2 separate regions of the Homo sapiens genome follow, and region 1 is linked to region 2. The links come from fine-mapping of genetic effects on gene expression. A gene starts in region 2. The other region holds a variant in brackets. All regions are shown on one strand. Distances are between the middles of the regions. Region 1 overlaps RGS9 (regulator of G protein signaling 9). Region 2 holds the start of RGS9 (regulator of G protein signaling 9).

What was found. PIP is the estimated chance that this variant, and not a neighbour inherited with it, causes the effect.
Region 1: its variant is fine-mapped to the expression of RGS9 in whole blood (TOPMed, PIP 0.99).

What each region holds. Positions count from the first base shown.
Region 1 is chr17:65,168,290-65,178,155 of GRCh38, reverse strand. RGS9 (regulator of G protein signaling 9) reads right to left here. Exons shown (of 19, transcript NM_003835.4): 9 at 353-424. It also overlaps the pseudogene ZNF848P. Among named protein-coding and RNA genes, the nearest start is that of RGS9, 36 kb to the right of the region's middle. RefSeq lists an enhancer at 4,413-5,206. The variant G/A (reference allele first, on the strand shown) is at 4,624.
Region 2 is chr17:65,133,656-65,143,521 of GRCh38, reverse strand. It overlaps RGS9 (regulator of G protein signaling 9), which reads right to left and starts at 6,152. Exons shown (of 19, transcript NM_003835.4): 1 at 5,925-6,152. The coding sequence starts at 5,981. RefSeq lists a silencer at 5,963-6,462.

The DNA.
Region 1 (9,866 bases), 35 kb before region 2:
CAGAATGTCTGTCTGTGCATCTTTGAGTGGAATGAGCTCATAACTTTCATCAGATTTTCGAAGGGGGAAGTGACTCAGAAAAGTTTGAAAACCAGCCATCTAGATCCCATTAGCTCTTCCCTGCACTCTACAGCCTCTGTCTGTCTTCAGTCGTAATTTCTTCTCACCTAGCATCCTGCCATGGTCCCACTTCTCCCCTAACCCTGAGTCCACAGAGCCCACGGTCCTCCTCTCTTTGATAGTCTCAAAGAGGAGATATCGTTGCCCTAACAGACACGAATAGACATGTGGACACCTTCCCAGCCCCAGAATCCGACCTAGGCCCTACCCAAACTATGCAGCAGAGACATACCTGGTTTACCTTGACTTCATTCGGATTGGTCACTCGGTCCAGGCCGTAGTCCAGCACATTGTCCATTCCAGGCTAAATGGAATAAAAACAACATAAGGTCATTACAGGGAGAGTCTCCAGTTTCTGGTTAACTGTGGGTCTTGGTTAATCTGCCAATTGTGAGATTGAGCTGAGAAGAGCTTGTGGCCTAGCCCATGGGAAGCTTTGAGTGGGTGTAAACCCTCCAGGTGAGCTGTTGAGCTTCATGAGGGCTGTTATGCCTCCCAGTATCCCCAGCACCTAACATAGTGAGATGGAAGGATGGAGGGAGAGAAGGATGGGTAGATGCGTGGGTGGGTGGATGGATGGAAAAATGGACAGGTGGTTGGCATCCCCAGCACCATAGTGGGATGCATGGATAAGTGGATGGATGAATAGGTAAATGGGTGGCGGGTAGATGGTTGATGGGTGGGTGAGTGGATGGATGGATGGATGGATGGCCAGACAGATGAATGGCATTCCCAGCACCAGAGTTGGATGGGTGGCAGGAAAGAGGGAAGGAGAGGGGGATGGGTGGATGGATGAATGAATAGGTAAATGGGTGGTAGGTGGATGGTGGGTGGGTGAATAAACGGATGGATGGATGGGTGGATGGATGGATGGATGGATGGACGGACAGATAAATGGCATCCCCAGCACCATAGTGAGATGGATGAATGGAGGGATGGAAGGATGGATGGATGGATGGATGGATGGATGGATGGATGGACAAACAAATGAATGGCATCCCCAGCACCATAGTGAGATGGATGGATGAAGGAATGGAATGGTGTACGAATGGATGGAGGAAGGGAAGGAGGGATGGATGGATGAATGGGTGGTAGGTGGATGGTGAGTGGATGGGTGAAGAGATGGATGGATGGATGGATGGATGGATGGACAGATGAATGGCAAACTCAGCACCATAGTGGGATGTATAGATGGAGGGATGGATGCATGGATGAATGGGTAAATTTGTGGTAGATGGATGGTGAATGGATAGGTGAAGAGATAGACGGATGGGTGGATGGGTGGATGGATGGATGGATGGATGGATGGATGGATGGATGGATGGTTGAGTGAGTAGATGGATGGATGAGTGAGTGGGCATATGGATGGGTAACATTCAGGCTCCAAAAGAGTTCACTGAGACTAATACATGGGCTTCCTGACTCTTCCCACAGTGCTCCTTCCCCACACTCTGTGGTTTCATCTTGGGCTTGGCGGGAAAAGTGAAGTGACAGAGCAGTGCTTTGGGAAAGTCCAGGCTTGTCAGGCACGTCTGGGTGCCACTCCTGGTTCTGCCACTTCCCAGCTGTGCAGAAGATCTTGGAAAACACTCCTTGTCTTGGCACTCACTAACCTCTCTAAGAAACAGAGAAGAATCCTCCTACGTGGCAGGTTCTTGTGAAGATTTAACAAGATAGGGTGTGAAGCTCTCCACAGAAGGTAGCTATTGCTGAGCAAGGGGTTGTATTCATTTTAAGATTACATATGTAAAAGAATGGCCCAAAACTGGGACTGTAATCTCTGTTAGTTCCCTTTGCCAGCAGGTAACCCAGCTCTCCAGAAAATCTTACTTGGTCTCTCTCAACTCCTTGACTCTTTGAGACCAATAATTTGGGTCTTTCACTTCCCCTGATGCAGGTGTGATGCCAGGCATCCACCCATTGCTCAGCACATGTGACCAACCAGGTTGGCTACACTGAAGCAGAGAGTTGGGAAGCAACTGGGCTTTCTTGCCATCAAATTCAGCCTCATCCATGGGATCAGACTGGGTTTTAGCTCAGATGTAAGACTGCCAGATAAAATGTAGGAAGCCCAGTTAATTTAAGATAAATGGCAAATAATTTCTGTCCCAATATTTTGATGCTTATTATATATTTATACTAAATATACAAAATACATTTTACATAAAAATTATTTGTTGTTTATCTGAAATTCAAATTCAACCAAATTTCCTGTATTTTATTTGCTAAATCTAGCAACCTAGCTCACCGGGCTACCATGGAGGCAAATATGTGCAGACAAGACGACACAGGGAAGAGAAAGGAAAAGGCAATAGAAAGTGGGTGGGGAGGAGGACAGGGAAAGGGAATGGCCATCCTTACCCTAGTTGTTACAAGTGGATCTTGATCAGCAAATATCTATGGGGCACTTCTTATGTGCCGGACATTGTGCTGAGCCCTGGGGAGCCCATGGTGAGTGTGCCCCGAGACCACTGCTCCCCAGCAGGCATTACTGAGGCACTCCCAGTCTCAAGGGGGAGGTAGCCACTCAGCAATTAATCACACAAAGGATAAATTAGAGTTGAGACAGGTGTCTTGAAGGGATAACACCATGGGATCTAACCTCACATGGCAGGGGCTCAGCAGAGTCAGTGCCTTTGCCAAAAAGGGTTCTAGGAGTTGCCCCCTGAATCTGGTATGGAGAAATCCCCCTGCATAACTGAAGGCAGACTTCATACACACACTTTGGCACGTTCACACACTCTCACACTCACACTCACACACCCACACACTCTCATACATACATATGCACACTCACACATGCTCACATACATACATGCCCTGACACACTGGCACACTCACACACGCATGCTCACATACATGCACACACCTACACATACTCCCACATGTACATATGCACACTCACACACACTCACATACACACATGTCCTGACACACACACACACACACACATTAATATGGTTTGGTTCTGTGTTCCCACCCAAATATCATCTTGAACTGTAATCTCCATAATCCCCAGGGATTGAGGGAGAGACCTGGTGGGAGGTGACTGGATTATGGGGGTGGTGTCCCCCATGCTGTTCTCATGATAGTGAGTTCTCATGAGATCTGATGGTTTTATAAGTGTCTGACAGTTCCTCTTTCACATACTCGCTCTCTCTCGCCTGCCACCATGTCAGATGTGCCTTTTCCCGTTCCGCCATGATTGTAAGTTTCCTGAGACTTCCCCAGCCATGCAGAACTGTGAGTCAATTAAACCTCTTTCCTTTATAAATTACCCAGTCTTGCGTATTTCTTTATAACACTATGAGAATGAATACACAAAAACATGCTCACATACATGCACACACATATGCATGCTCACACATAACACATTCACACACTCACACACGTGCATACTGACACATATATGTTTACATGCATGCACAAACCTAGGCACACTCACATATACATATGCACACTCACACTCACATACATGCTCACTTACATGTACACATCTACACACTCTCACACATACATACATATTCTCACATACATGCACACCTTGACACGCCAACACACTGACATACATGCTCACACACATGCACACATGTACACACACTCGCACACATACATTCACACACTCACTCACATACATGCACACCCAGACATACTGACATGCACTCACACTCACACACAGCCTGTGCTCATGATGCCCTACAACCAGTGTCTGGCTGCTATTCCACAGGCGCTCACTGCCTCGGTGACTTCGGTGTGGTCATCTGCTCAAGTCTTGAATTCGTTATCTAGTTCTTTCCTTCCAATGTGCCCCAGGCTCTGATATAAATTTGGTTGCCCCAGTGCTCAACAGTGCACTGCATAACTGAGATAGAGTCCTCTATGCCCTCAGCTGCCCAGACCAGACGGCCTTAGACTCTCAGACCTGCAGCCACCCACTGGGCTTCATGATTCTGCCAGCCTGTCCAGTTCCAGCCCCAACCTGGCTCTCCATGCCTTCCCTACAGAACAGCCAGGCACAGTCCTCTGGCCACTGCTGCCTCGGCTCTTGCACCTCTGTGGGCAGCAGCCCTTAAGTCTCAGTTGTTCCCAATCAAGCTGTGGTCCTTTTCCAGTTCCCTGCCCTCGAAACTGGTGAGAGGGCTGCCTTTCTGCCTCTGCTGGTTTCAGAGACTCCCAAGCTCCTTTCATTCATCCATTTCTTCATTCATCAGGTAGTGTAAAGTCTTTGACCCACTATGATCATCACCAGAGTGCTGCTGACACAGTTTCTGGCACATAACAGGGTGTTCAGATGAAGTTAACCAGAACTGACTGTCAGCGCCCAGGAAATAAGGGCAGCCGATGCATCCTGCGGTGTGTGGCCCGCAGATAAGGAGGCAGCAGGCACTTTCTGCCCTGGTGCCTCATGCAGGAAGCCTTCAGAGACATGCAAGCTCCCCTCCTCCACCCTGAGGAACTGTGAACACCAGGGTATGACCCCGCCCCCCACAAACAACATCCCTT[G/A]GGTGTAAGCCAAAGAGGCAATTTGCTCAATGCATCATCATTCAGGTCAGGAAAGGAGCTCCTGTACTCGTGACAACTGCTCGTGAGGAGGCGATGTTCCCAGGAACCCACATACAGAGCAAGGCCAGCGTGGAGCTGACGGACACTTCTCGGTGGTACTCCACCGTGTCCCCCTGCCCCTCCTTCTCTCAGCTTCACTCTCTTCCCAAAAATATCAGACTCTTCTGGTGCATGGAACAGAAAACAAATACTAAGTAAAACACTAACTCGTTTTCTAAACAAAATAAGACAGGGGAAAGAAATAGAGATGAGGCCAGGCGCGGTGGCTCATGCCTGTAATCCCAGCACTTTGAAAGCCTGAGGCCGGCAGATCATGAGGTCAGGAGTTCGAGACCAGCCTGGCCAACACAGTGAAAACCCATCTCTACTAAAGATACAAAAAATTAGCCAGGCGAGGTGGCGCACACCTGTAATTCCAGCTACTCGGCAGGCTGAGGCAGGAGAATCGCTGGAACCCAGGAGGCGAAGGTTGCAGTGAGCTGAGATCACGCCATTGCACTCCAGCCTGGGCAATAGGGCAACACTCCATCTCAAAAAAAAAAGAAAGAAAGAAAGAAAGAAAAAAGAAATAGAGATGAGGTGAAACAGGGAGACAATTTTATGTTGCTGTGTTAGGAAAGTCAGCTCCTAGAGGATCTTGGCTTGAATGTCACTCTCCACGTCCTGTGTCCTGTGTTCCCTGACCCCCAACCGGACGCAGAGCCCCTGCCTCCTACCAGCTGCCATGGCATTCTGCTTGTTACTCATTCATTGGTTTAATCATTTTAGTCTTTGTCTCTCCACCAGACTGCAAGAAACTCCTTGAGGTCACGGGCAATGTCTGTCTTGGCTCATAATCCAAATATCCCCAATGCCTAGTAAGCACCCGGCATAGAGCAGATATTCACAAAATATATGTTAATTTTTTTTATTTTTTATTTTTGGACCATGGCACATGGAGCATTCCACCCACCCTGGTTTTATAATATAACATTATGTGTCAGGCCGCCACAGTGGCTCATGCCTGGAATCCTAGCACTTTGGGAGGCCAAGGTAGAGTCAGGAGTTCGAGACCAGCCTGGCCAACATGGTGAAACCGCCGTCTCTACTAAAAATACAAAAATTAGCCAGGTGTGGTGGCAGGCGCCTGTAATTCCAGCTACTCAGGAGGCTGATTCAGGAGAATTGCTTGAACCCAAGAGGCAGAGGTTGCAGTGAGCCAAGACCATGCCACTGCACCCCAGAGCGAGACTCTGTCTCAAAAACAAACAAAAAACAACAAACAAACAAAAAACACATTGTATGTCAGATCATTTTCCTAGATCAATGAATGGCCTTTGAAAATATTATTTGAATAGCTTCACAATGTTCCATCATGTTAATATACCTCAATTTATTTTGCCATTTTCCATTGTTGGACATTTAGCCTAACTTCGATGGGAAATGGAGGGCAGACATCTCTGGCAAGTGTCTGCATATGTGGTTGAAACAAGGGTCATTTAGCTTGATAAGCAGATAAGCACACCCACCGCCAGGAAGCAGCCTCAGACTACATCCTTGGGAGGCAGGAAGTCACAGATGGCACAGCAAAGATGCAGGGAAGGCCTCCACATGCCTGTCTAAGGGAGCACTTTCTCCCTTTGTTCATTTACAAAACTCACTGTTGTTTGCATCGTGCTCAGATCTGTACTTGGTTCCATTTGAGTAAAAAACAGGTGAGAAACATCGTTTTCCTTCATTACAGGATGCTGAATCACAGGTGTCCTTTGGGCTCTGGGTAGGAATTCAGGTCAGAGCCCTCAACTACCACCACCCACGTGGGGTCTTGGCCTTTGCCAGTGATGATCTCCCTGAAACACCATCTATCAGACATTTCTCCCTGCCTTTCTAAATCAATCACCCTCTCGCTGTGCCCCTTCTGCAATTAGGTCTTATCTCTGGGAGAGTGTCACTCACCTGTGCTCCAGCAATTTGGATTTTGAGCTCCTTGAGCTGAGAGAGGGACCACGGGTGGGGCCTCCTTGCACAGAAGCAGAATATCGGGCTTTACCATCAGAAAGATGTGGCTTCCTCTCCCAGAACTGAGCAGGCTACTGAACCTCTATGAGCCTCAATTTCTCCATCTGAATAACGGGGATGGTGATATTCCCTACATCATAGCATCAGGCGTCAATGAGGTCATCTGTGCCAAGAGCTTAACACAGGTTCAGAGGAGTACTCAATGACTCTTGGCTGTTATTTCACACCCAGCACCTAACCCCTTCCCTGGGACAAAGTCAAGGCTCAACGAAGATTTCATGGATCAATGAACAGACAAATGAACAAGTGAATGAGTCGGTTCAGTAACAGCAGGCCACGTCTCACTCTACAACTGTTGGTTACAGTCTGACACGGAGTGGCCGCGACACTCCACGGCGCCAAGTGCTTTGTTTGCCTTGGCTGGCTTTTTTCCCATTGAACTGACGGTTTGTTTGGGTCTCCTGGAGACAGTCTGGCAGCCTGTGAGCTCCGGGGCTTCCTGAGCCTGTCAGTCAGATTGCTCAATTTCTAGACTGAGATGCTCTTCAAAAACACTACCTTCCACCCCCACAGGCCAACAAGAGATGGGGAGAATTTTAAGAAAATCACAGAGAGTGGGGCCACTGCACTCTCCTGCCTCATCTTTGACTACTGGTCTGGTTTTCACTCAGGGAGCAGCCATGAAAGAGGTTAGATGTGGGGAGCAGTTTTTAGTCCTGGAAGTTCTAGGACCACTCTGAGTCCATCAAAGCCTCATGCTGAACTTGGGTCCCCAGTGCTGTCAAAGAAGGACCAGGCACGTGTAAACCCAGGCATTCGGCTTCTTAGAGCAGCAGTGACCCAGGCAACGTTCTAATGACCGAGGAGGTTACCAAAGGACTGAACTGTACCAAGATATCACATGACATTGTCATGAGAGGCAGAAGTGCACAGGGCTAAGGTGCAGGGGTTGGTGCTCCACAGTCAGTGGTATGTGGGTTCAGACCCTCTGGCACTAACTAGCTGTGTAACTTTGGGCAAATTAGCAGCATCCTTGAGCTTTCACTTGCTTATCAGTACAATGAGAATAATAATAAACCCTTCCACACAGGGCTGCAAAGGTTCAATAAGAATGCAGAAGGCGGCCAGGCGCGGTGGCTCACGCCTGTAATCCCAGCACTTTGGGAGGCCGAGGCAGGCAGATCACGAGGTCAGGAGTTCAAGACTAGGCTGACCAACATGGTGAAACCCCATCTCTACTAAAAATGCCAAAATTAGCCGGACATGGTGGTGCATGCCTGTAATCCTAGCTACTCAGGAGGCTGAGGCAGTAGAATTGGTTGAACCTGGGAGGCAGAGGTTGCAGTGAGCCGAAATCGTGCCATTGCACTCCAGCCTGGGTGACAGAGCAAGGCTCCATCTCAGAAAAAAAAAAAAAAAAAAAAAAGAATGCAGAAGGCTTAGCACAGTGCCCAGCACACTGGGAGTTCTCAGTTCATGTCTACTGTGATGGTGACGGTGACAGTGACCACAGTGATGAAGACAATAAGGGTGGTGGAGGTGGTGGAGAAAGTGGGGGAAATAAGAGAGGTGGTAGAGGTCAGGGAGATAAAGGAGGTGAGGGAGTGGGAGGTGGGATGACGGTCATGGTGGTGGAGATGGGCTGGGGGGGAGGCAGTGGTCATAGAGACACATGGTCATATTTATGTGATTCAGCATCATCCTGTGAAGAGCCACTCAGCCACTAGCCTGGTGGGGGCTGAGAACTTACCCCAGAAGAACTGAGAAGAACCCGGATGATCAATTTTTCATGTTAATGCATAGCTAGTCTATGTCACTTTGCAAGGAATGTAGTCACATAGGCATTCGCACAGTGAGGAGTCTCTGCACATAATATAGAAGCCGTTCTTTACCTACCCTCAGGTATGGTGCCACTGGGCACCAAGGTGTCTTGCCAAATGTGGCATATCCGCCATGTCTCCTTATCCTCACCACAGAGTGCTTCTGGAACACACGAGCAATGTGAGGCTCCTTCTCATACAAAGAGTTTCTTCGCTACCAACCAGGAGGGGTGCTTATCTCTGGGACCCTGTGCTCTGTCACCCGGCCCCCAGATACCTGCGTCAGGCATCTGTAAACTGGTTTCCCTAGAGGAGAAACCCTGAAGCAAAGAAAAAATCAAACAAGCTGTTTGGGATCAACCTCAGCACCTTAACCTCAGCAACACAGCATCCAAACCCATGCCGCTACAGAGTGGAACACCTTAGGAGAATCTGTTTTCAGTATATAAAGAATATAAGCAAAACAGCCAAAATCGGATGGGCTTGAAACTCAAAAATCCATAAACTCTGACACCAGGCCTCACTCAGTTCTCCTTCTGCTTCTGAGAATTTCTGATACCTGGCAGGCAAGGAAGCTAAAGGAAGAGGAGGAAGAACATTTCTTTCTAACTCTTCGGTTTCCAGAATCTCATTCACATCTCCTACCTCCCATGACCCATAGGCAGCACAGGGAGCTGTACAGGAGGAAACTGAGGTAGCAGAGTTAATCCCAGTATGTAGCAGTCAGACCCCACTTCTGTGTGCTGGGGAATGAGGCTACCATTTCCCAGTGATGAGCTGGGGCAAGTTACACCAGCTCTGTACAGCTTGTCCCTCTGGGCCACTGAAGTCCCAAAGCCAGAGATTCAGTGTGCTCCAAGCAAGGAGAAGCTCAACACAGACGTATTCCTTCTCCTTCTCCCATCTCAGCTGCTGGGAACTGGATCTAGGAGAGGAAAAAGTGAGGGAGCTAGAGACACCAAGGAGAACTTTGGCCAAGCAGTTTCCATTCTCACGGGACTCTATTTTTCTGCATTGGCGCCTCCATTGGGGCCTACGTTCTAATTTTTTCTCCTTATATTCCTTTCCCAAGGTATGATATCCTAGCAAAAAAAAAAAAAAAAAAAAAAGTCCCAGCCCTCGTAAAAGACAAATTCATTCAGGTCCCTCCCTACCTAACACCAACAGATGGGCCATGAGCAGACCCCATCCAGGCAGAGAACTTCCTTTTCTGGCCAAGAGGCACTTGGATGCTAACCCAACACTGAGCAGCTCCTCCTGCTGATCCAATTCTCGCCCTAGAGAAAGAGGAGTTGGCAACAGGTATGGAGAGCACAGGATGGAGGTGGGAGGCACAGGAAGAGACAGAGGACACCAGGCAGGAGG
Region 2 (9,866 bases):
CGTGAGCCACCACTCCTGGCCCCCAGCTAATTTTTAAATTTTCTTATAGAGATGGGTCTTGATATGTTGCTCAGTCTGACTGCTTTTGTTTTCAACACATCTCTTCTCTGCCCACTCAATCCTGCCTCCGTGGAACATCTTCTAACCCCCTTCCTGGACTATCAGGTTCTGCCTTTGAGCTGGCATCTGTCTCCAGCCTCCGGGGTGCTCCTTAGCCCAGGGCTCTCAACAGTGGCCCCATCAACGCTTGGAGCTGGATCATTCTTTGGGGGTTGGTGAGGGCGGCTGTCCTGTGTGTTGTAGGATGTTTAGCAGCATTCATGTCCTCCACCCACTAGATGCCAGGAGCACCCCCAGTTATGACAACCTAAAATGTATTTAGACATTGCCAAATGTCCCCAGAGGCTCTCATCCTGACTGCACATTCAAACCACCTGGAAAACTTTTCAAAAAGAGCAATGGTTAAGCCTGGCATGATGGCAGGCACCTGTAAATGAAATTACTCAGGAAGCCAAGGTGAGAGGATCCCTTGAGCCCAGGAGCTTGAGTCCAGCCTGGGCAATATAGTGAAAACCCATCTCTAAAAAAAGAAATTGTTAAAAAAGAAAAAAAAAGAAAGAAAGAAACAAAAAGAAAACCAGGCCAGGCTTTGTGGTTTACACCTGCAATCCCAGCACTTTAGGAGGCAGGGCAGGTGGGGCACCTGAGGTCAGGAGTTTGAGACCAGCCTGACCAACATGGTGAAACCCCGTCTCTACTAAAAACACAAAAATTAGCCAGGCATGGTAGCAGGTCCCAGTATCCCCAGCTACTTGGGAGGCTGAGGCAGGAGAATCACTTGAACCCGGGAGGCAGAGGTTACCGTTAGCCGAGATCTCGCCACTGTACTCCAGCCTGAGCAACAGAGACAGGCTCTGTCTCAAAAACAAACAAAAAAAAAAAAAAAAGAAAGGAAGGGAGAAAAACAGTGGCATAAAAAGACCAATGCTTAAGCCTCACTTCCAGGCCAAGTAAATCAGAAACTCAAAGTAGAGTGAGTTGATATTAATGTTTTTTAAAGTGCAGCCCAGGTTGAGAATTACTCATTCCCTCTCACCAGAATCATCTTTCTAGCATATAAACCAACTCATCTTATTCATCCCTGATTTTAAAACGTCAAACAGCTTCTCATTAAACACAGAAGCCATCAAACTCTGTAGCATGACCTAGGAAGCCCTCCAGTTCTGGGCTTTTCTTTTTGTTTGTTTGTTTTTGGTTTTTGGTTTTTGGGTTTTTTTTGAGACTGAGTCTTGCTCTGTCACCCAGGCTGGAGTGCGGTGGCATGATCTCAGCTCACTGCAGCCTCCGCCTCCTGGGTTCAAGCAATTCTCCTGCCTCAGCCTCCCAAGTAGCTAGGATTACAGGCGCATGCCAGCATGCCTGGCTAATTTGTGTATTTTTGGTTTCACCATGTTAGCCAGGCTGGTCTTGAACTCCTGACCTAGTGATCCGTCCACCTCAGCCTCCCAAAGTACTGGGATTACAGGCATGTGCCACTGCACCCAGCAGATCTGGGCCTTTCTTACCTACCAGTCTTCTCCATCAACGCCAAACTCACTTCCTGTACACTTGGGGCCAGCTCTCCCAACCCGCAGGCAATCTCCCAAACCACCATGCTACTTCACATGTCCCTGTTTTGTATTGCCTAAAATGTCACTCATTTCCTCAACCTCCTGGCCAAAAACTACTGACTTTTTATAATTCGACTCCATTGCAAGCCCCCTTGTAAAATCTGTCCTGATCCCCCCTGACCCCAGGTAGAACTGACCACTCCCTGCTTGGTGTCACATGTATCCTCCAACAATGTCTGCCACAGCCTATGGAACACTTCTTGTCTCCTTGTTTATACATCTGTCTTTCTCCACTAGACTCTAAGCTCCTTGGTGCTCCCAGCACCTGGCACAGCATCTAGCCCATAAGTACCCAATTATATGTCTGTATTGAATGAAAGAATGTTACAAGCAAGAGATACCAAACTCGGCCTGGATATCCTCAATATTTCTGCTTCTGCATTCCTTTCTCAGGCAAAAAGAGATGCCAGAAGCCGCACAGGAAAACAAAGCTGTCACCAGAAGGCTTCTCCAAGAAAGTCCAAGAAATTCGCCCATGGTGAATCCCAAGGGCGGTGGTGGTACTGGCTGGGATGGTGATCTGGTAATTGCAGAGGGGAATGGGCCATCCCCAGAACAAGAGTCCATGGGTGCTGGAACCACAGGAGGCCACCCACCTGTGTTCATCTGTCCACTGTGTGCCATCAGCTAATTCCCCAGCAAAGCCATGAACAGATGGGCCTTCTGCCTCTTTCTACCACATCTGAAACGAGCCCAGGCATCAGAGGTGGGAAGCAGCATGGCCGGCGGGCATCCCGACCCACAGCTGCATTGAGACTGAGATGGAGGCATGGGTGTGAGAACCTCGGGAATCGCACACGGTCCTTTCTGACCAGTATGGCTCTCCATGGCCCCATGACAGTTGTCATTTCTCAAGAGGTTGGAGCTGCAGGGGCACAGGAGGATCCTGAGTGAACTCTCTTAGTTCAGGGAGAAGGCATTCCACCCATTCCTCTGGCTCACACCAGTGGTCCTTTTTTTTTTTTTAGACAGAGTCTCTCTCTGTCACACAGGCTAGAGTGTAGTGTAGTGGCAAGAACTTGTGAACTCAGTTACTGCAACCTCCACCTCCCGGGTTCAAGCAATTCTCCTGCCTCAGCCTCCCAAGTAGCTGGGATTACAGGTGCTCACCACCACGCCCTGCTAATTTTTATATTTTTAATAGTCAGAGGGTTTTGCCATGTTGGCCAGGCTGGTCTCAAACTCCTGATCTCAGATGATCCACCTACCTTGGCCTCCCAAACTGCTGGGATTACAGGCATGAGCCACTGCAACTGGCCCACCAGTGATCTTCTTAATTTGCAAATCTGCCATATCACTTGCCCATTCCAATTTCTATAGTGGCTCCGTATGAGATAAAACCAAACCTTTAAAAGGTCTTGAAGGCCCATAGGCACCCACTACCTCTGCCTTTCCTTTCCAGCTTCCCACTCCCCTTGCACTTCAAAATCCATCCATTACAGAACATGGCCCCAAACCCACTAGCTTTCCCATGCCTCTGTGCGTAAACTGTTCCCTCTGCCTGAAACATCTTTCCCTTTCTGCCTGGAAACCCTATGTATCCTTCAGGTCTCAGCTCTGTGTCCCTAAGCACACTGAGCCAGGCTTTCCCACAGCCTCCACACTCTGCCCTACGTCATGGGAAAGCTCAGGGCATTGCACCACAACTTGTGACAGACAACGACCACTCCTGTATTTCTTCTTGGTTTCACCACCTAGTGCTGCGTGACTGGCAAGCCGCTTAGCCTCTCTGAGCCTCAGCTTTCTTCTCTGTAAAATGGTGGCCATAACCTCCAGCTAATGAAATAGATGAGATAATGCACATAATGCCCACCCCTCCACACCATCATGGACACCGTGTACTTCATCACATGCATGGAACGAGTGATGAGTGACAGTTGCACCCAGGTCCACATTTTTTTGTTCCAGGCCCTTCTCCAGAAAGCTGAACATCGAATGTAGCTGGTTCTTCATTAAGGATCGCCTGGCATGGGCTCTTGAGACCTGTTCTGCAGACCTTTATTCTGTCTGCTGCTCCAAGGAGCTCTGTGACATGACCAATACATACATAGATATAGAGGATACATAGACAGGGCCCTTGCCAGCACAAGGTCTAGGGAAAGAGCAATGCTGGAGGTGTGGCAAGGTCTGTAGTGCACAGAGAAGGGAGCTGTCCTGCCCAGGGGCATTAGGAGAACCAGCCTTCACAGCCGAGGGGTGACTGAGCTGGGCATGGGAAGAGAAGTGGAGCTTGGCAAGCGAGAGGGGGAGAAAGGACTTTCCCAGCAGACGGACCCTGAGGCATGAAAGGGCACCGGGTTCCTAAAAAGGAAGGAAGTGTTTGAGGCAGGAGCCCAGGGGTGCCTGTGGCTGCTTTGTTGTTTCCCAGAGGGCAGGTGTGGAAGGCAGGCAGGAGGCAAAGCCAGGAAGATGGTGGGAGCGGAATCCTGGGTAACCAGGCTGCTCAGGGGAAGGTTGGACTTTATGCTGGGAATGTGGGAAGCCAGTGGAGCGTTTCAGGTCAAGGAGGTCACCATTGATTTGGGGGAAAAAAACAGTGTGTGTAGGAAAGCTGTCATGGAGGAGGGGAGACCGGGGTGGAAGATGGGGAGCTGGGATGCAGGAGGGGGAGGTTAGGGTAGAGGAGAGGTAAGTTAGGATGGAGGAGGAGAAGGCTGGGGAGGAGGAGGAGGATGGGGTAGAGGAAGGGGAAGACAGGGTGGAGGAAGAGGACCTGGGGTGGAGGAGGGAAAGGTGGGGTGGAGGGGGGAGAGCTGGGGTGGAGGAGGGGAGCTGGAATGGAGGAGGGAGAGGTTAGGGTGGAGGAAGGGAGACTAAGGTGGAGGAGGGAGAGTTTGGGTGGAGGAGGGGATGCTGGGGTGGAGGAGGGGATGCTGGGGTGGAGGAGGGGTGGCTGGGGAGGAGGAGGGAAGCCTGGGGTGGAGGAGAGAAACTAGAGACCAAGACACTAGTCAGAAGACCAAGGTAAGGAGAGGAGAATCTACCAGAGAAGAGTCATGATGGAAAAGAATGCCAGAGATTCAATAAACAAACTGAATTTATCTCTTGACAATTACCCTCTGAGCCCCCAAGCCAGAGCTGTCCTGCCTGGGAGGAGACAGTCCTAGGATAAATCCTGGAAGATGATGTGTGGCTTTGAGATAGCCGACTTAGGCAGTTTCTTCTGCTTTTAGTAACTGGTATCTGCAATACAGGCTCTCAGGGTTCTTTCTGAGTGAGACAACATTCAGCCTGTCTGCTTTACAGATGATACCCACACCTCTGCTACCCGGAAGATGAGCACGAGCATCTTGAAACAGGTGGACCAAATGCGACCGTCTCGGGGTCCCCAGGACTGTCCAGGTTTTAGCATTGAAAGTCCTGGGCAAATCAGGACAGCGGTCACTGACTATACAAATTTGCTGAGCTCCAGGGGCTCAGGGAGAGCTCAGCTTGTCACAAAACATTCAACTAATTCTACTCAACAAGATAAGCCTAAGAAGATGGACACTACGCTGTGAAAAGTGGCTACGGGTGGGAGGAAGGACAAAGATGTGACCCGGGACCTAATCCTCTGTAGATCTCATCGGACAGTGATTATACCAGAAGCTCAGAACTAAATGAACCACTTTGTCCCCAAACACATCACCCCACAGGTGCATTCCACCTCCCACATGTCCATCCTGTGTGCACACCCTGTGCCCGGTCACTTTGTCTGGGAAAGCATTCGCAAGGGAAGCGAAAAGGTTGGGACTTCTGCCGCCAGCGCAGACAGCAGGAGATGCACAGATAGACACACTCAAATGAGGGCTCTCAGGGCATTGTAAATGGGGTGGCCCTTTATCCTACAAATCACCCCGTTTTCATGGTCTATGTGTACACACACACACACTTTAAAATAGTGCAGTTTGGGATCAGAAAAAAAAGGCAAAAATGGCAATGTCACATCTGGTCGTCTTACAACAATATCAGCAGGCTGTCTCAAATCTGCCACAGCCTGAACTGAACCTGCCTCTCCCGAGTAACAGGTTGTTTTCACCTCCCGCAGACCATCAGCGCTGGCTTCAGATTCTCCACTACAGGCAGGGCACACGAAAACCTAATTATTATAGCCATCAATATCGACACACACAGCAAAGAAGTCACTTAATAAAATCGAGCAGCACAAATCGACCCAAAGGGGTGCTCTCCACTCCTGCCCCTCTTGTCCTCGGACGCTTCGCAGATGCGGTCCCCCGCCCTCCTCCCAGGGTCCAGGTGAGGGGCCAGGGTTACCTTTTGGAGAAATGCCATCCTCGGCCTGTACTGCTGGCCTTGGTGTCGGATTGTCATCCTGGCCCCTGGATGGATTCACAGCCAGAGCACCAGTGGGAGACAAGAGGAGAAGCCCCCCAAGTTCGAAAGGCAGCCTGGCTCGCCCCAGCCCTGGGCGTCGACGGGGAGGCGGCTGGGCGGGGAGGGCGCGGGCCGGGCCCCCCTGACTCTCACTAGGCGCCGCTGACTTGGAAAGCAGCTGGAATCCGCGCCAGCCAATCCGCGAGCGGCGCCGCGGGCTCATTAGCATGCGCTGCGCGGGCGCCCACCTGCCGCCAGGGGGCGCTATCCGGCCCCCGCCGGGACCCCGCGGAGCAGCAGGTGAGACCCGCAGGGCAGGGCCCCGGGAGGAGAAGGAGGAGGAGGACCTGGCGGGAGGAGGAGGAGGACCTAGCGGGAGGAGGAGGAGGACCTGTCGAGAGCAGCGAGCCTTTTAACTTGGGGCGGAGTTATGCACAGAAGTGACACAAAGAGCCCTCACTAATACAGCGCGGTGGAAAATACGGACTTTCCCATCCCAGCTCTGCCACTAACCAGCCGGCAGCCTTGGGCAAGTTCCTTACAATCTCTAAGAATCAATGTCCTTCACTCAAAAGTAAAAATTGAAAAATGGGATCATAATATCGACCAGAAAAGGTTGCTATACCATTTTAATGAGGAGATGTGTAACACAGTGCTTGGCCCTCAATAAATGCTTAGAAAAAAAAATTAGAGGTGGCGATTTAATGACCCAATAGCAGAGGAATTGCTAAGATGTGGGTTTAAAAAGAGAGAGCAAAGAAGTGAAGAAGGAAGAGAGGAAGGTTGTAGTCCTCACCGGGCTAGCTGTCTGGATGAAGCGAATTATATTTTACTTCTCTGATTCTTAGTGTTTCGGTTAGTTGGTTGTTGGGTTTGTTGTTGTTTAACTTTTTTTTTGAGACAGGGTCTTGCTCTGTCACCCAGGCTGGAGTGCAGTGGCGTAATCATGGCTCATTGCAGCTACAACCTCCCAGGCTCAAACAATCCTCCCACCTCAGCCTCCCCAGTAGCTGGGGCTACAGGCACGTGCCACCACACCCCGCTAATTTTTACAAAAATTGTTTGTGGAGAGGGAGTTTCACAAACTCCTGGGCTCAATCGATCTACCCACCTCGGCCTCCCAAAGTGCTGGAATTACAGGAGTGAGCCACTGCAGCTGGCTGGTTTGCTTGTTTTAATAGACTTTATTTCTTAGAGCAGTTTTAGGTTCACAGCACAATTGAGCGGAAGGTATAGGGACACGTCATATATCCCCTCTCCCCACGCACGCACAGCGTCCCCCATGATCAACATCCTCCACTGGAGTGGCCCATTTGTTACAATTGATGAACCTACCTTGACAGCTCATTATGTTAGCGTTTTCATCTTGAGAAAAATGCAAGGATGAAGCCTCTAAGTTATTATCAAGAGCCTTTCTGCTTTGTTATATAAAGCACTTTCTCTTAAACATACTCGATGGTTATTGAGTGTAGCAGATAAAATGTTTAAGTTGGAAGAAAACAAGAAGGCCTTTACCTTAGGAAGGCACAGTCAACCAATGTCCCTTTAAAGCAGTGGTTCTTGGCTGGGTGTGATGGCTCACGCCTATAATTCCAGCACTTTGGGAGGCCCAAGCGGGTGAATCACTTGAAGTCAGGAGTTCAAGACCAGCCTGGCCAACATGGCAAAACCCTATCTCTATTAAAAATACAGAAATCAATCAGCATGGTGGAGCAACCTGTAATCCCAGCTACTCAGGAGGCTGAGGCACAAGAATCACTTGAACCCAGAGGCTGCAGTGAGCCAAGACTGAGCCACTGCATTCCAGCCTGGGTGACAGAGTGAGACTCTGTCTCAAAAAAAAAAAAAAGCAGTGGTTCTTATCCATTCTCTCGGGTGATATTTACCTGTAAGAATCTGATGAAAGCTATGGACACTCAGGAACACACACACATGCACATGTACACAACACTGACTGAAGTTTGCAAACAATTTCAAGAGGTTCATGCTTGGGCCTCTCTTGTGCCTTTTCAGGAATCCCTGATTCAGAGCCTCCAATTTAGAGGACGCTGGACCCTGCAGAGATCCATCCAAGCAGAAGACCAGAGATCCTGCCAAGCAAATTGAACCACTGAGAAGTATGCTCCTGGTGTGAGCTGAGATCCAAAGAAAATGCTGGAATATCTTGATTTTTTTTCTCATGAAGCATCTTTTGAGCCTGGTGTGAGTTTAAATCCAAAGAAAATGCTGGAATATCTTGATTTTTTTTCTCATGAAGCATCTTTTGAGCCTAGTGTTATACAGAGCACATGCTGGGATCTGACCAAGATGAGCTATGAAGTTCCTTCCAGCTTCAACATCCCTTGTCTCTAGAAACCCTAAGCATCAAGAAGATAAGTGGCTTTCCTAAAATGAAGGATGAGAAAAATTATTCAGGAGCAAAGAGAGGCAAAAATAAAAGGCACTTTGCTCATTAATAGAATAGGAGAGGCCTCAGTGCCTGCCACTCTCCTCCCCACCCCTTCTGTCAGGCCCTGCTCTCCAAGCAACTACATTTTGTGGGACCCATCTTTGCTCATTGGACCAGAGGCCAGTTCCCCACATGATAGGACCATGATGTGGATCTGAAAAACGGAGAGGAGCTTGTTAGATTATTACCTTCACAAATGCCAACTTGAGTCAGATAAAGTCAGGGCCACAGGAAGCTGAGACCAAATGCAAGCTGAAGTTATGAGGAAGGAGAAATGAAAGGTGAGCAGAGGAAGCTGATCAGAAAAGGGAGGCAAACAGGCTGGGCGCGGAGGCTCACGCCTGTAATCCCAGCACTTTGGGGGGCCGAAGCGGGCGGATCACCTGAGGTCAGGAGTTCGAGACCAGCATGGTCAACATGGCGAAACCCCATCTCTACTAAAAATACAAAAAAATTAGCCGGGCATGCTGGCGCATGCCTGTAATCCCAGCTACTCGAGAAGCTGAGGCAGGAGAATCGCTTGAACCTGGGAGGCAGAGGTTGCATTGAGCTGAGATTTGCACTCCAGCCTGGGCAATAGAGCGAGACTCTGTCTCAAAAAATATACATATAAAAGAAAAGAAAAAAAGGGAAGCAACAAGCTGAACAGAGAGCAGCAGAGGGGCCATGACACAGACAAGCCCCTCGGACTAAGTTGGGTCAGTGCCTTACCAAGGGCAAGGGTATCTTCTGGAATCCTCCCACATATCTGAGTCTTTGTTTCTTGCAACTGAAAGAGCCTGTCATATAATATGGTATTCAAAGTTTCATGCCAGTGTCCTAGGGGAAAAAATTGATTTAATTCATCGATTTATTTAATCAACAAACATATTGTTTGCCAGCCATTTTGCTAGAGTCTGGAATTCAAAGCAGAATATGACTCAGTCCTTTCTATGAGAATAAGACCAGAAAAATACAAATATAAAAAAGAAAAAAAGAATATGACCCAGTTCCTGTCTCAAAGAGCTCAGAGTTTAAAGTGGAAAAAGAATATTTAGACAAAAATGTTATAAAATAAAATCTATGTGTGATGAAGATGTAGTCAATGCAATACAGGATTTTGTGGAAAGGCACCTCACCCATCCTGAATGGAAGAGAAGATCAGGAAGGCTTCCTGGAAGAGGAGTCTTAAAAGAAGATAGGAAGTTAACCAGGTGTAGGGGCAAGCTAAGTTTCCTCACAGGGAACAGCACAAGAAAAGGTGCAGAGGCAAGGATTAGCATAATTTGAGGGTGGTGACTAGGAGTTTGTTGGACACAAGGTCAAGAAGTTTAGAGGGGTCGGGCATGGTGACTCATGCTTGTAATCCCAGCACTTTGGGGGGCCGAGGCGGGAGAATCACCTGAGATCAGGAGTTTGAGACCAGCCTGGCCAACATGGTGAAACCCCTGTCT